Regions from separate parts of the Homo sapiens genome. Here region 2 is linked to region 1. The links come from fine-mapping of genetic effects on gene expression. A gene starts in region 1. The other region holds a variant in brackets. All regions are shown on one strand. Distances are from middle to middle.

The links. PIP is the estimated chance that this variant, and not a neighbour inherited with it, causes the effect. A credible set is the group of variants that fine-mapping cannot tell apart.
Region 2: its variant is the best candidate, but not a certain one, in a credible set for the expression of ATP6V0A2 in whole blood (INTERVAL, PIP 0.54).

The regions. Positions count from the first base shown.
Region 1 is chr12:123,709,308-123,714,307 of GRCh38, reverse strand. ATP6V0A2 (ATPase H+ transporting V0 subunit a2) reads right to left here and starts at 1,955. Exons shown (of 20, transcript NM_012463.4): 1 at 1,626-1,955. The coding sequence starts at 1,742. LOC105370042 (a long non-coding RNA gene) reads left to right here. Exons shown (of 3, transcript XR_945477.4): 3 at 1-1,542. RefSeq lists a silencer at 1,581-2,130.
Region 2 is chr12:123,741,130-123,746,129 of GRCh38, reverse strand. ATP6V0A2 (ATPase H+ transporting V0 subunit a2) reads right to left here. Exons shown (of 20, transcript NM_012463.4): 10 at 2,195-2,345; 11 at 1,793-1,929; 12 at 1,346-1,533; 13 at 1,158-1,248. Among named protein-coding and RNA genes, the nearest start is that of DNAH10, 19 kb to the left of the region's middle. The variant A/T (reference allele first, on the strand shown) is at 2,377.

The DNA of each region.
Region 1 (5,000 bases):
CTTCTGGAAAAAGATGAACAGCACTTTCTTCTCCTTTCACTGACATTCAGTTGAAAAGGATCCCAGGTACACTCTATGACTGGAGGTAGTGGCGCTTATTGAAACTGGAACCTTCATAGTGATTAGTACGTTTGCTCAAACCTGTAAGACTGAAGTGTGATAAGTGTCTTGGCTTGAGTACTAACCGGAAGGAAAACATCTACCTGTTACAAATGTAGGAGCCTGCTGCACCTGCAGCTGTTGCCTGAATGTTTTGGGTGCTATTCACAGCTCAGCGCAGCATCCATCAGGTGAATGGGTACAACTGCAGAAGTGGCTCCAGGAACCAGGAACCGCCCTGCATCTTACCTGCACCCTCGCCTGTCACTCAGGAGTCTCTCCATGACTTTGCAACTGCCTTATGGGGCTGATCTGGTATTAGATATCTGATATCAATGGATATCAGATCTCGGGTAGGGCTGATCCCTTTTGAAATTAAGGACACCTTAGGAAGATTAAGGGAAACAGTCAGGAGATGAAAGTGGTGGCCAGGAAATAAAATGTTCGCCTGAGTGGATTTCAATTCAGTCAGTAAGTACTTGCTTCACGGTCTCCCTTCCACACCCTGTTCTTTGCCTTCTTAGCACTTATCACAGCTCATAATCAGAGTGTGTTTAATCTGTCTCCTCCCACACTGGAAGCTCCAGGAACACAGGGACTGTGTCTGCCTTGCTCACCACCGAGTCTCCAGCACCAAAAACAGTGCCTGAACATAGCGGGCAGTCAAGAAAAGCTTGTCTGTTCATTCAACAAATGCCTATCGATGCCAATGACTGCCAAGGACTGCGTTAAGGTACTTACTCTCAGAGGTTGACAGTCCTTGGTGGAGACAAACAATAAACAAGTAAATGGACAAACAAATGTTTATTATTACTTGTTGGGGAGACAGCTTCCACTCGACAAACAATGACTGAGTTCTTAAGTCCTTACACACAATGGTATGTACAGCATTAAGCATCAGTGACCAAAACACAAAAATCCCTCTCCTCAAGCAGATGACATCCAGCTCCTTCCCATTTCTGGCTCTGTCTGGGCTCCTCCTGTTCCCTCCAACAAGGACCCTCTCCCCAGATCTTCCCCACGGCTGGCTCCTTTCTATTTGGGTCTCAGCTGAAATATCACCTTCTCCGGGAGGCTTCCTCGACAATCCCTTCACACTCACCTCCCGCCCGAATCACCTTCACATCACCCCGTTTCTTCTTTATGGCAAACCTTTTCTGGTTGACCTATTTATTTGGTTAATGCGCCCCCCTAACCCCCGTAAAGTTCCAAAAGGACTCCAAGAGGCCTTTGTGGGATTTGTTCTCCCGCTGAGCTCGGTGCCCGGAGCTGATGAAGACCACACGGGCGATCCTAACTAACTGGGGCAGAGCAGCCGCCGACCACACAGACGGCCGGCGACCCTGGAGTCAGCCCCGCGCTCCGGGAAGCTTTGGCCGCTGAGCTGGGGTGTCATCTTCCCCGTCTGGACAATGGGGACGGGGCGCGCCCTTCCTCGGTGCTCCCCGCGGGAGGGCCCCAGCGATGCGCGGGATTGGGGGCGCCAGGAGAGCAGGTGCGGCCCGCGTCTCCCGGGCGACACTCACGTCTCGGAACTGGACCAGGCCTTTCTCGCCCAGGGCGCTGAGGCACTCGTAGGCCGTGCCCGACTGCAGGAAGAGCTGCGCCAGGCACATGGTCTCGCTCCGGAACAGGGACCCCATGGCGGGCCGACCCGCGCCCGGAGGGGCTCGATGGGCGGCGGCGGCTCCGAGCCGCGCGGGCCCGCACACTCAGCCGGTGCGGCCCGGGCCTCGAGCTCTTCCTGTGGCCTGGCCGCGGCCCCGCACTATGGGGCTCCAGACTGCAGCGGCCGCCCCCGGTTCTGCCACCGCGGCCGCCGCTCCAGCTGCCGCCACAGCAGTCCGCGAGGTCCCGCCCCCAAGCCACTGCCGGTTCCGGTTCCGCCCCCGCGTCCCGCCCCCCCCGCCGGCCGACCAATGGACGCCCGAGGTTGTCGCCGCACGACGTGGCGGCAGGGCCAACCAGCGCGAACCCGGCGGGTACGACCACTGCAGCTGGCGCTCCGCCGGACTGGACGCAGAGCTAAATCCCGCGCGGCTCCCCGGCTTTCCTGGAGGAGTCTCGCCGAGTGTGCACGCCGCGAAGCTCACCCGTTCCTAGTGCACGACCCTGTGCTGCTGCGTGTGTGTGTGTGTGTGTGTGTGAGAGAGAGAGAGAGAGAAACGGAATCTCACGCAGTCCCACAGGCTGGAGTGCAGTAGCGCGATCTCGGCTCACTGCAACCTCCGTCTCCCAGGTTCAAGCGATTCTCCAGCCTCAGACTCCCCAGTTGCTGTGACTACAGACGCGCGCCACCCGCGTCCAGCTAATTTTTTTGTATTTTTAATAGAGACGGGGTTTCACCATGTTGGCCAGGCTGGTCTCAAAACTCCAGAGCTCAGGTGATCCGCCTGCCTCGGCCTCCGCAGTGCTGGGATTACAGGCGTGAACCACTGCGCCCGGCCCTGCTGCTGGTTTTTTATGGATAGGGTTTCCCTCTGTGGCCCAGGGAGGAGTGCAGTAGCACGAGCTCGGCTCGCTGCAACCTTGACCTCCTGAGCTCAAGCGATCCTCCCACCTCAGCCTCTGGAGGAGCTGGGATTACAGACGCGCGCCATCACACCCGGCTAATTTGTTTTTAAAATGTTTATAGAGAAGGGGTTTCATCATGTTGGCCAGGCTGGTCTCGAACTCCTGAACTCAAGCAATCCTCCCGCCTTGGCCTCCCAAAGCGCTAGGATTACAGGCGTGATCCGCCGCCCGGAGGGATCCTAGGCTTCTTCGTGAAGTTGGAGTGTGCAGCCAGCATCCCAATCCAGTTTTCAAACATTTCCCACCGACCTCGCAAGACTCCTCCTGCTCAGTTGCAGTCTCCCCTTCCCGCCCGGCCTGGCCACCACAGGACAATTTTGTCTCGCTAAATTTGCCACCTCCAGGCTTGTCCTGTCGATGGAATCACACAGCACCCAGTGTGTGTTCCCCACACTGACCGGGAAGCAGTGGCCCCCCGCCCCAGGCCGCAACCTCACCGCTGTCCCAGTCGAGTCTCTGCTTACATATCCCCTTCCTTGAGACTGTCCCTGGAGTCACATCCTTGTTCTATTTCCTTCACTGCACCTGCCACCATCTGAAATTATCTTGTCTGTGTGTTAGTGCCAGTCTTCCCTGCTAGAATGGAAGCTCCACCAAGGTGGGGACATTGTTTCTGCCACTGTGGTATCTCCAAGCCCCAGCACATAGTAGCCACTCAATAAATAGTTCATGAATGCATACATAAATGTATAAACTTAAAAAAGTTAAAACCATAGACACTCCAGACCCCATTCTGCCAAACTGAGTTTTTTCCTTCTTTTAAGTACAAAAGGCGTCCTCACAAAGCCCACAAAATCAAGCTAAATTACCTGTCATTTGGAAGTTTTAAATTTATTTTCCATAAATACCTGAAATCCAAAGCTAGTTACACTAGGCTGGGTGCCCTGGCTCACTCCTGTAATCCCTGCACTTTGGGAGGCTGAGGCAGGTGGATCACTTGAGGTCAGGAGTTTGAGACCAGCCTGGCCAACATGGCAAAACCCCGTCTCTACTAAAAAAATATAAAAATTAGCTAGGCGTGGTGGTGGGCACCTGTAGTCCCAGCTACTCGGGAGGCTGAGGCAAGAGAATCGCTTGAACCTGGGAGGTGGAGCTTGCAGTGAGCTGAAATGGCATCCCTGGACTCTAGCCTGGGCAACAGAGTGACACTCTGTTTCAAAAGAAACAACAACAACAAAAAGATACAGTAAGAACTGTGAAGGTGAATTCAAAGGCTGAAGTTCAGACAATAATTGACTCAGACCCCAGCTCCGTCAGTCCAGTACTGACCCAGATTCCTGAGTCAGCCCTAGAGGGGTCGGGTGAAGGCCCAACACCACCACAGTACAGATGCTGAAATTCACGGTATTTCCATCATGCAGAAACTTAGGACCTCTGCAGTGACTAGCTCATCCCCCTATTTGAAAGTGGACTCAGGCCGGGCGCAGTGGCTCATGCCTGTAATCCCAGCACTTTGGGAGGCCGAGGCGGGTGGATCACGAGGTCAGGAGATCGAGACCATCCTGGCTAACACAGTGAAACTCCGTCTCTACTAAAAATACGAAAAATTAGCTGGGCATGGTGGTGGGTGCCTGTAGTCCCAGCTACTCAGGAGGCTGAGGCAGGAGAATGGCGTGAACTCGGGAGGCGGAGCTTGCAGTGAGCAAAGATCACGCCACTGCTCTCCAGCCTGGGCAATAGAGCAAGACTCCGTCTCAAAAAAAAAAAGAAAAAAGAAAATGGACTTAAGACTGGAGGAAAATTTGAAATTGCCCCTGGGCAGGAACTCTGCAGCGAAGATGAAACAGCACATTTTATGTGGTGCTGGGTATCAGCAGGCACTAGGAATTCGATCAAAAAGTATAAAAGGGAAAATAATTATTTTTCAAAATTAGGCTTAAATAACATAGAAAATCCATCTGAAACAACTAAGTTACCTGGCACACAAAGAAAACTTACAGGTGATGTGCCATGTGGCCACTGTAGGACCGTGGCTAAAAACATCTATTCCAGGGCTGGGCACAGCAGCTCATACCTATAATCCCAGCACTTTGGGAGGCTAAGGCAGGTAGATCACTTGAGCCTAAGAGTTCGAGACCAGCCTGGGTAACATAGGGAGACCCCCTTCTCTACAAAAAAAAAAAATACAAAAACTAGCCAGGTACAAGCCTGTGGTCCCAGCTACTTGGGAGGCTAAGGTGGGAGGATCACTTGAGCTCAGGAGGTCGAGGCTGCAGTGAGCCGTAATTGTGCCACTGCTCTCCAGCTCTCCAGCCTGGGTAACAGAGTAAGACCGAGTCTCAAAAAAAAAAAAAAAAAAAAAATCCATTCTCCCCACTGAGTGGGGT
Region 2 (5,000 bases), 32 kb before region 1:
TACAAGTTATTACTGAATTTGGCTCCAAAATGCTGTATCTTAAAGAAATTGTTGTAGCCGTGTTTCCAAGTTTTCAATTACATTAAGACTTAATGCTACAACATGAAATTATACCAATCATGATTAGAGATAAGAATAAACAGAACACACTAAGAGATACTTCCTCCTTGGAGAGCCCAGGTTAAGGAATGCTAGACTTTTTTTGCTCAGTTTAACGACTGTACACAATTACATCCACAAACCAACTTTGAGATTGTTTCTCAGTCATTCTTTTGATTCTCCAGAAAGACTCCTGACAGCTCAGGAAAACCCCACCCAACCCTGCAGTCCACTGCCTCAGCCACCGCCTGCTGAGCCCTCGAAGGGGTTGGGGGTCCTGGCACCCTGGGGCTACTTCTCCATTTTCTTTTTTTTTTTTTTTTGAGACAGAGTCTCTCGCTCCGTTGCCCAGGCTGGAGTGCAATGGCACCATCTCGGCTCACTGCAAGCTTCGCCTCCTGGGTTCACGCCATTCTCCTGCCTCAGCCTCCTGAGTAGCTGGGACTACAGGCGCCAGCCACCACACCCAGCTAATTTTTTGTATTTTTAGTAGAGATGGGGTTTCACCGTGTTAGCCAGGATGGTCTCAATCTCCTGACCTCATGATCTGCCCGCCTCGGCCTCCCAAAGTGCTGGAATTACAGGCGTGAGTACTTCCCCATTTTCTTTCTATTAACACTTTTCCCATTCCAAACAACTACCCCAATAAGCACCATAATAACCTCACGCTTCCTTTCAGCTCTAACACTCCATACCATTTCTTTCGAGATCAAGGGTTTTTAAAAGTTCACATATACGAGGAAGAAATGTAGGAAATGGCACACATTTCAGGGCTACTGAAGTGCCATTTTCAGCCAGAGGAAAATAGGTAGGACACATGACAGAACACAGCCCTGGCTCTCTGAGGACTTCCTCTGACCTCACCTTCCCAAACGGAGGGCCCCCCAGCTCCTGGCCTCCCCTCCCAGTGTCCGGGACTGGGATGCACAGGGGCTAATGAGCACCTCCCGCTCAGGGCAGCGTGAACCCTGCTCAACAGTCTAGAGAAACTCGTGGCGCCCGAAGCTAGGTGGCACCACAGAGCATCCAGAGACAACGACAGAGCGTGGTGCACTCACAGGATCAATGCCAAGGGGATAAGGGCCTCGGAACACTCCAGGAATGCTTGGATCCAGCTGCAAAATGCTGTTGTGTCTAACGACGCTGTCACTGTAACAAAAAGCAGAGTGAGGAGGCTGACCTGGGAGGAGGAAGGTCTAGGAAACATGCTTTCCACCCAGAGCATCACCAGCTATGGGACACTTACTTCCAAAGCACCATCTTCTTATGCTCTGCGGGTGGGTGGCTGGAGCTGTACATGGCCGACACGTTCCACCCAGAGCCGAACAGGTTGACTGACTTTGAAAAGCAGTCGTTGTAGATGAGGCCAGTGTACACTGAGAACAGCCCCATCAGCAGGAGGATGTACCGGCCATTAAAAAACATCCTCATGATCTGTGAAGGGCAAGGCGGGGGCAGAATATGGTTACTGGAGGGTGTCCATGTGACAGCTGTCGGTGTGGGCACGACCCTCACCACTCACTTCTCAGAAAACAGCCTCGCCCCGCAGACATCCCTGTCAGCCGCAGCTGACAGGCCACACACCTGCCCAGCACAGCCGCAGCCTACAGCAAACATCTAAGAGGTGTCTCTCTTTCGGTCACTGCTAATGCCACCTAACCAGATATATGAGCTGGAGTGTTTATATTTTTACCTCTTGTGACTGATTTAGTCTGGGATGATTTTCATTTAACACCAACAAGAGGGCAAATAAAAACATCACAAAGCCATGTCCGAAGTCTCCAAACATCACAGCAAATAAAAACGGGAAGGTGATGATGGTAAAGAGAGCTGCAGAAAAAAGGGAAAGAGATTTCTGATTCACAGCAAATATGGAAAACCTGAGTTCATTCAAACACAATGATACATAACAATCTTGACTTTCTCCAGAATTCACAAGATAGGATTGTGTGGTTACATTTAAAACCTTATACTTTTAAATAAGATAGCAAAAAAGTAATGGTCAGCCTCTCTTTCCAAATATCTATTCCATTCTTAGAGCAAGAATGCAACAATGCCATTGGAAATACGGGTATTTACAAATCAGACTTCCAACCTGGATTGACTTCTCTGTAGCTTCCGACTCCATAAGCATCCACGATGTTCTGAAATCCCTCGGTGAATTTGTTGGTGCGGATCCGAGTGGGGGGTGTTTCTTTTGTGGGGATTATATTCATGAATGAGGGGATTGTAGCACCACTCTCTCTCTTCCACATAAACAAGGAAAGATAAAAAATT[A/T]CTATCCAAGAAGAAAATAACTATCCATATTCAACGAATCTGGGTTACTGCTTTGTTTTTTGGTTTTTTTTGGTGGTGTTGTTTTGTTTTGTTTTTTTTTGAGACGGAGTTTCACTCTTGTTGCCCAGGCTGGAGTGCAATGGTGTGATCTCGGCTCACCGCAACCTCTGCCTCCCAGGCTCAAGCGATTCCCCTGCCTCAGCCTCCCTAGTAGCTGGGATTACAGGCATATGCAACCATGCCCGTCTAATTTTGTATTTTTAGTAGAGACGGGGTTTCTCCATGTAGGTCAGGCTGGTCTCGAACTCCCGACCTCAGGTGATCCACCTGTCTCAGCCTCCCAATGTGCTGGGATTACAGGTGTGAGCACCGTGCCCAGCCTTGTGTTACTGCTTTGGCAACGCTGTGTGTGTGGCTTTGGTGCAGGATTAATCTCCACTCAACAGGGTCAAGAGCAGCCAGAGGGCCTGGAGGAAAAGTCCATCTGTGAGGAATCAGGGGGTGGCAAGGGCGGCACTTGGGGCCTGTGGCCTCCAAGAAGGAAGGGTGAGAGCAGGACTGAATGCGCCGGAAGTGAATGGGGGCTGGGGAATGCGGGGCACGTGGGTATGGAGTCGGCTCAGTCACTGACAGAAAACCGACACTGAGTACTTTATCTCTTAAAAACGGTGAAGAAAGAGGAAGTTTGAGACAACTGCAATATACTTAATAAAAAAATGAGAAAGGCAAGAATAAACCAAAATGTCAACATGAATTCTATTATGGCAGAATCATAAATATAACTTTATCCATCAGTGTTTGCAATTCTTCTGAAATGCATTATATTGATTTATAATGAAAACACTTTTAAAATAAGGTAAACAGGTTATTGACAGAATAGTAGATTTTCTGGTCAAAATAAGTCTTTTTTTTTTTTTAAAGAAGGAGTCTCGCTCTGTCACCCAGGCTGGAGTGCAGTGGTGTGATCTCGGCTCACTGCAACCTCTGCCTTCCAGGTTCAAGCGATTCTCGTGCCTCAGCCTCCCAAGTAGTTGGGATTACATTGCACACCACCACGCCTGGTTAGTTTTTGTATTTTTAGTAGAGACGGAGTTTCACCATGTTAGCCAGGCTGGTCTCGAACTCCTAACCTCAGGTGATCTGCCCACCTCGGCCTCCCAAAGTGCTGGGATTATAGGAGTGAGCCACTGCACCCGGCCAAAATGTGTCTCTTAAAACGTATGCATGTAATGGGGTTCTGGGGAAATTCTCGAGGGTGGCACAGCTTTGAACGTCCCCAAGTCCCCTTCAGAACAGAAAGTGCAACCAGCTAGCAAGACCTAAAGCCTACGGATGGCATTTACAGCCAAACCACGTCCCCACAGTCCCCAAAATACAAATGGGTGAGGAAACCACCAACAGCTACAAGACCTACCCAGCAGCCTCCAGAGCAGAGGATGCAAGTAAGCAATGTGGCCTCCAAGGGGCCTGGGCCAACAACACCAAAAATGGCCAGAAAGAACCTCCCTGGGAAAGCAGAGGAGGCCAAACCACAAAAAGCAGCTGGAACTGGGAAGAGTTCTGTCCAGTCCAAGAGTAGGCGACGGCACAGGGGCCATGGGCAGTGAAGTCTGCAGGGGTTGGGGCAGGGCAGCCCAGTCCCTAAACTCACGGCACTGACCTGCCAGGTCCTCCCCTGTTGAGCGGCCACACGCTGAGGAGAAACTGCTGGGAGTGAGATCAAAACTGAGCAGGACAGGAACGAAAGAGAAAAGACAGAGGAGTTCACAAGAGAGACACAGAGGACATCTCAGATCCAGGACCCGACGTGTTTGCATTCAGTACACAAAAAATAAAAAAAAGAAAAAACCATCAGTGAGGTTAGGATCGCTATCCTGAACCTGCCATCTTCTAAAAGTTCCTTGAGTACCATAAACATCTGCCAGAAAACTATTTTCATGTAAATATACATTTATATTGCTTGTGTAATAATATAGAATCTCCTTGAGCAGGACAGGCATGGTGGCTCATGCTTGTCATCCCAGCACTTTGGGAGGCTGAGACAGGAGGGTCACTTAAGCCCAGGAGTTCAAGACCAGACACCGTCTTTTGTAGAGACCCCATCTCTACAAAAAAATATAAATAACTAACTAAATAAATAAATAAATTAGCCAGGCATAGTAGTGCATGCCTGTAGTTCCAGCTACTCAGGAGGCTGAGACGAGACGGGAGGATTGCTTGAACCCAGGAGTTTGAGATTGCAGTGAGCTACGACCATTACCACTGTTCTCCAGCCTGGGAAACAGAGTGAGACCTTGTCTAAAAAATGAATTTCCTTGAGCAGCTAAGCATCTTCACCATGTTCCATAAATCTTTTTTTTTTTAAACCTCCGCCTCTGGGGTTCAAGGGAGTCCCGTGACTCAGCCTTCCAAGTAACTGGGATAACAGGCACGTGCCACCATGCCTGGCTAATTTTTTTTCTATTGTGTATTTTTTGTATTTTTTAGTAGAGACAGGGTCTCGCCATGTTGGCCAGGCTAGTCTCAAACTCCTGGACTCAAGTGATCCGCCCGCCTCAGCCTCCAGAGTGCTGGGATTACCAGCGTGAGTTACCGCATCCAGCCTCAAAAGTCTAATTTCATTT